Regions from separate parts of the Homo sapiens genome. Here region 2 is linked to region 1. Evidence: fine-mapped expression QTL. Tissue or cell type: whole blood. Region 1 holds a variant in brackets; the other region holds the start of a gene. All regions are shown on one strand. Distances are between the middles of the regions.

What was found. PIP is the estimated chance that this variant, and not a neighbour inherited with it, causes the effect.
Region 2: it holds the start of NGRN, and the variant in region 1 is fine-mapped to the expression of NGRN in whole blood (INTERVAL, PIP 0.97).

The regions. Positions count from the first base shown.
Region 1 is chr15:90,232,058-90,234,811 of GRCh38, reverse strand. It overlaps CIB1 (calcium and integrin binding 1), which reads left to right and starts at 871. Exons shown (of 7, transcript NM_006384.4): 1 at 871-977; 2 at 1,109-1,143; 3 at 2,485-2,593. The coding sequence starts at 927. It overlaps GDPGP1 (GDP-D-glucose phosphorylase 1), which reads right to left and starts at 603. Exons shown (of 4, transcript NM_001013657.3): 1 at 520-603; 2 at 216-290. RefSeq lists silencers at 469-908, 929-1,378. The variant G/T (reference allele first, on the strand shown) is at 1,281.
Region 2 is chr15:90,264,151-90,266,777 of GRCh38, reverse strand. NGRN (neugrin, neurite outgrowth associated) reads right to left here and starts at 1,106. Exons shown (of 3, transcript NM_001033088.3): 1 at 902-1,106; 2 at 380-490. The coding sequence starts at 1,065. TTLL13 (tubulin tyrosine ligase like 13) reads right to left here. Exons shown (of 15, transcript NM_001396017.1): 15 at 1,301-2,058. The coding sequence ends at 1,811. It also overlaps a transcript of CIB1 not described here. RefSeq lists enhancers at 152-1,122, 916-1,145, 1,506-1,635, 1,123-2,094.

The sequences.
Region 1 (2,754 bases):
TAGAGGTTAAGAGGGGACAAGAGCAAAGGGTCAGCAGTCTAGGGGTGAGATGGAGTCAAAAGGACGGCAGGTCAGCTGGAATGATGAGAACAGCAGTGGAGAGCCTTTAAAAGTGCCTTGGACTGGACCGATTACCTTCTAAATGCCGGCGCCCGGAAAAATCACTAACACCCTTTGGACTTACGTATTTCCATCTTTGTAAAATGGGAACCTACCTCGCAAGGGATGTTGCAACAATCGAAGAAAACTATGCACAATGCTTGACATCCAGTGGGTCCTCAGTAAATAGCCTAAGAAGGAAGCAAGGTTATGGTTACTTCTGGAAGAGGTGGCTTGGGGGCTGCGACAGGTGCAGCGATTGCCTGATGATAACATCTAGAAAAGCCCTTGCTGGGCAGAGGGGCAGCCGACGACCCCCGCCACTCAGCGAGTCTCCAGGTTTCCCGGAAACGCTAGCTCCAGTGACTTCTCAGATGCCCCTATGGGACCCCACCCAGGGCTGCCGCCGCCACCACCTACTGCAGCCGAAGCGGATGCACCTCGCGACTTTCCCCGCAGCCGCTGCCGGGGCCACAGCGAGGTCATGACGCCCGTGACGCATACGCAGCCAGCACGCACGCGCGCGGCGTGGCCCGCCCCCCCCTCCCACCCCGGAGGCGGGGCCGTGAGTCCCGGGCTCCGCCCCGGAGCGTCGGGCCCCTCCCCGGGCCCCGCCTCCAGCTCGCCTAGGACCGCTTGGAGCCGGCAGCTCGCCTGCCAAACCCGGCTGGGAACGCCTGGCAGCTTTTAGGAGGGGGCGGGCCCGGGGGTGGTGGCCCCAGGAGCGGTTGCCGCGGGGACCGGGCAGTGACGCGGCCCAAGGGCGGAAGTGAGAAAGTTGTCTGCGTCTCGAGGCGAGTTGGCGGAGCTGTGCGCGCGGCGGGGCGATGGGGGGCTCGGGCAGTCGCCTGTCCAAGGAGCTGCTGGCCGAGTACCAGGTGCGCGGGACGCCTGGCCCTGGGGAGCTCGCGTGCGGGCCTCTTCTCGGGAGCAGGGTCCGGGAGCTGGCTGCGGGGCGGCCGCGGCCTCCCAGCGGTCCGCTAATCCCCGCTCTGGCTTTGCCTTCCAGGACTTGACGTTCCTGACGAAGCAGGAGATCCTCCTGTAAGTGCTGCCTTGAACCCTGCCTCCGACCCCGGGATCCTCTAGAGACAGCTTCGGGGGCGCTGTCCCGAGGGAGGGGCGGGGGCTGGCCTGAGGTCTGCAGAGGAGCGGGAGCTGGAGGCCGGGAGACCTAGCCC[G/T]GGCTGCGCCCTCCTCCCGGCACGCCCTCCCCGCCCTCGCCTGAGGCCCCAGCGTGGCACCGCGGAGCCACCTTACAGCCTCCAGGAAAAGTTAGGCGCTCTTTGACCCTGGGCTCCACTAGCTTCAGCACTGCCGAACTTCCTGCCCCAGTCCGGCAGGGGCCGACCTTGCCCAGTGGCTAAACCACAGAAGCCTTGGGGAGCCCGGCTCCTTCTCCCAACTTTACCTGAATAATACAGTAACCGTTATCGCTTTCTGAGCACTCACCATGTGCCAGGGACTGTGCTAAATGGTTGCCTGCGTTACCTAATTTAATCTTTAGGAGAGAGGTACTGGACAATGAAACAGGTTCAGAAAGGTTTGGTAACTGCTTAAGACAACACTCTGAGTAAGTAGATTTGAACTTGGGCTGGAAGCCCTTTTGCCGGATTTATGCAGGCCAGGTTCCTGTGGCAAAGATAAGCTCATGGGAAGGAGGTGGAGGCCGAGGAGGACAGTTCAGTGTGGTTGCTAAAAAGGAGGCTTTGAGGGTAAGAGATCCCTGGAGTGAAGGTGAGAATGAGATTTTTGGTTTTGCTCTTTTCTCCGTTTTTTTTTTTTTGAGACAGCGTCTCGCTCTGTCGCCCAGGCTGGAGTGCTGGGGCACGATCTTGGCTCACTGCAGGCTCTGCCTCCGGGTTCAAGTGATTCTCCTGCCTCCGGGTTCAAGTGATTCTCCTGCCTCAGCCTCCTGAGTAGCTGGGATTATAGGCACCCGCCACCATGCCCGGCTAATTTTTGTATTTTTAGTAGAGAAGGGGTTCACCATGTTGCTCAGACTGGTCTCAGACGCCTGACCTCCAAAGCTCCGCCCGCCTTGGCCTCCCAAAGTGCTGGGATTACAGGTGTGAGCCACCGTGCCTGGCCAATTCTTTAGGGCCAACTTCTGGCTCCTTTCCCAACTTCTTCATCCCTTGGGGATCTCTAGAATCAGTGCCAAGCACATAGTAAATGCTCAGTAAATACTCATTGCAAGAATAGACTCCTAGGCTGTACTGCCTTGTGACATGTCCTTTTGCTTACCGTTGCCTGATGACTCGGAAGTTCTGTGTACGTGGTTTTAGCTCCTCACCTGGTTGACAATGAGCAGCAGGCAAGGAGTGGGAATGAACACACAGGGAGACCGATCGCTGAGAACACCGACAGTTCCCCTCTCTCTACCAGAGCCCACAGGCGGTTTTGTGAGCTGCTTCCCCAGGAGCAGCGGAGCGTGGAGTCGTCACTTCGGGCACAAGTGCCCTTCGAGCAGATTCTCAGCCTTCCAGAGCTCAAGGTGCAAGCGCTCCCCTCCTTTGACACCTCTCCCACCACTCCCTCCCTGCTAGACCCCCTAACTCCATCTGCCACTAGCTTTGGGATCATGGGGTCACTGGTCCCCACTCTGGTCATTTTTCTGCTTAGTTCTGATTTTCTAGGGGCAAGGACTTTACCAAA
Region 2 (2,627 bases), 32 kb before region 1:
ACTATTTAAAAATTTCAGTAAAAATGAACCAACCACGTCATAACGTTAAAAACTATTAAAACCAGGCGGGGCGCAGTGGCTCATGCCTGTAATCCCAGCACTCTGAGAGGCCGAGGCGGGAGAATCACTTGAGGTCTGGAGTTCGAGGCGATAGCGAAACCCCGTCTCTTTAAAAAACAAAACAAAACACTATTAAATCTAGATAATGACAGGGTTAGGGAAGTTCGTTATATTACTCTACTTTTCTGATAATAAATTTCAACGACAAAAAGTAAACGAAAATATAAAAGCAGTATCAAAAAAGCCAAACCCGTTTCTGGGCTCCAGCATCCTTCACTTCTCATCACAGCGGATACAAACAAGGTATCCTGAGTCTCACCGTATCTGCTCCATGGCTTCCCACGTCAGGGTCCTGGGCGGGGCACCAGGCGCCTCCATTTGCCTCCGAATTTTCTGGAATCGGATTGCTTGTTTCTGTCGTTTCAGGGTGCTGGGGGAAGAGAACCAATGGCAGAAGCCATGCGTGGAAGCAGAATGGATGTTTGAAGAGCCTCAGGCTAAATCATGGAGCGCCCAGCCCTCTTCTCTTTGATCGCAAGGGCAACCGGGCCATGTTGCCGGCTTAGAGCTGCTCCGTACACCCAGAAAGCTAACACCTAGAACAATAACTGCCTGTAAGCATGCCGAACTCTCTAAACTGATGATGAAATACGTCACTAATGAAGGGACCAGTGGTCCCAGGGGAGCTGAACACCTGACGCTGCGCCCCTAACAACGGGTAAGAAGAAACAAGGGCCGCTGCGCAAGCAGCGGCAGGACACCCGGCGCCAAGGGGGCGCGGCCTGGAGCGCCGGGGCACGAGGCCCTGCTTCAAGCTGAGGGCCCGGGGAGAAGCCGGTACCTCTCCACCTCCTGCAGCTCCCGTTCCTCCGGCTCCCAGTCGGAATCGGGGTCCGGCTCCCGGCCAATAGGGCCTGGGCCCGCCACCCCCCGGGTCGCGAACCCACAGCGAGTGACGGCGGCGCAAACGCGCCCGCCCAGCAAGAGACTCAGGGTAACCGCCATGTCGACGCAAACCAGCCTTCAGCAGTCGGCTACGAAACAGCAGCGGAAGTAGCCGGGTAAGACCGGAAGTGGAAGGGGCGGGCCGGAGGCTGGGTAGTAGCAAGTTATTTCCCGCTTCACTTGGTGGGGGTAAGATCTGGGCTCACGCTGCTCAGTGGCCCACCCTTTCTGCCTGTAACTGTGGAGAGGGCTTCCCTGAAACGTGAGGGCCGAAATGAGGTACAGGACGCTCCTGGAAAACTGCATAAACTTTAATTAAAGTACGGATTCCGTTTCCAAGAGCCGTCCCTCCGCCCCAGCGGCTGCCCAGGCCTGCCTGTCTCCGCCACCTCGGTGGGCAGGGCTTCCGCTCGGCAGTCTTCTGACGGCGACAGCCCAGTGCCTTGGGCACTCGGCTTCTCTGGGAAAGGGGCTCATTGTCTCCTGGATGGCCTCCAGCCCCGGGCCGCACCTAGGGTTCAGACCCATCACCTAGCGATAAACCCAGGCTAAGGCTTGATGAGCAGAAATGAGTACATGGCTGGCCTTGGCGCCTCTTCATCTTCTAGTCTTTACCGATCCCCAATTAATCTTAGGGTATTGAGGAATTCTTGGTGTCTTTGTATTTTGCCTTATACAAATGGGGTTCCTGGGCAGGGCTTTTCAAAGTGGAACTTGGTGGCAGTCATTCATTTAGCAAAGATTTAATGCCCTTTGGAAACCTGGGGAGGTTATCCAGGAGAGGTAGAGTGCTTCCCTCCTGCTTTTACCTGAACTGATTGATGTTGAGGAGTGCTCTGGAACGCTGCAGCATGGGTGCAGACGCAGGGCAGAGGGGAACCTTGGCTGCTCTGTGTTCAGAGTTTACCATGGAGGGCAAGGTGCATTCAGTCCATGAGTCAGATGCCACTCTTTCCGGTTGCAGAAAATAGCCCTGCTTTGGGGTTAAAGTGGGTGGCACTGATCCTGCCAGGACTCGGTTTATGGCTTCTAGCCTTCTGCTGGCTTGTCCTTCTGCAGTGGAAACATGGATGTCCCTGAGTTGGTATTCACAGAAGAGATTTGTTCACCTCTTTCCCAACTGTGGCCCAATTACCAACACAGAGGAAGGGCATCTCATGCTTCCCTCCACTGTCTTTCCCACACTGTATTGTAATTGGTATGGTATGTCTTTTTGTCCATGTTCCTATTACCTCTTGAGTGCTGGGACTGTATTTCTGCCATTTCTATCACCAGGGTCTAGTGTACAGAAAGGATTAAATAGGCCTGGTGCGGTGGCTTACACCTGTAATCCTAGCACTTTGGGAGACTGATTCAGGTGGATCAGGAGTTCAAGACCAGCCTGGGCTACGTGGCAAAAACAAAATATACAAAAGTTAGCCGAGCATGGTGGTGTGTGCCTATAGTCCCAGCTACTCAGGAGGCTGAGTCAGGAGAATTACTTGAGCCCGTGAGTGGAGTTTGCAGTGAAGTGAGATCAAGCCATTGTACTTCAGCCTTGGCGACAGAGCGTGACCTTGTCTCAAAAAAAAAGGAGTAAATAAATGGGTACCCTAACTTCCCCATTCTTACACTGGTGGAAG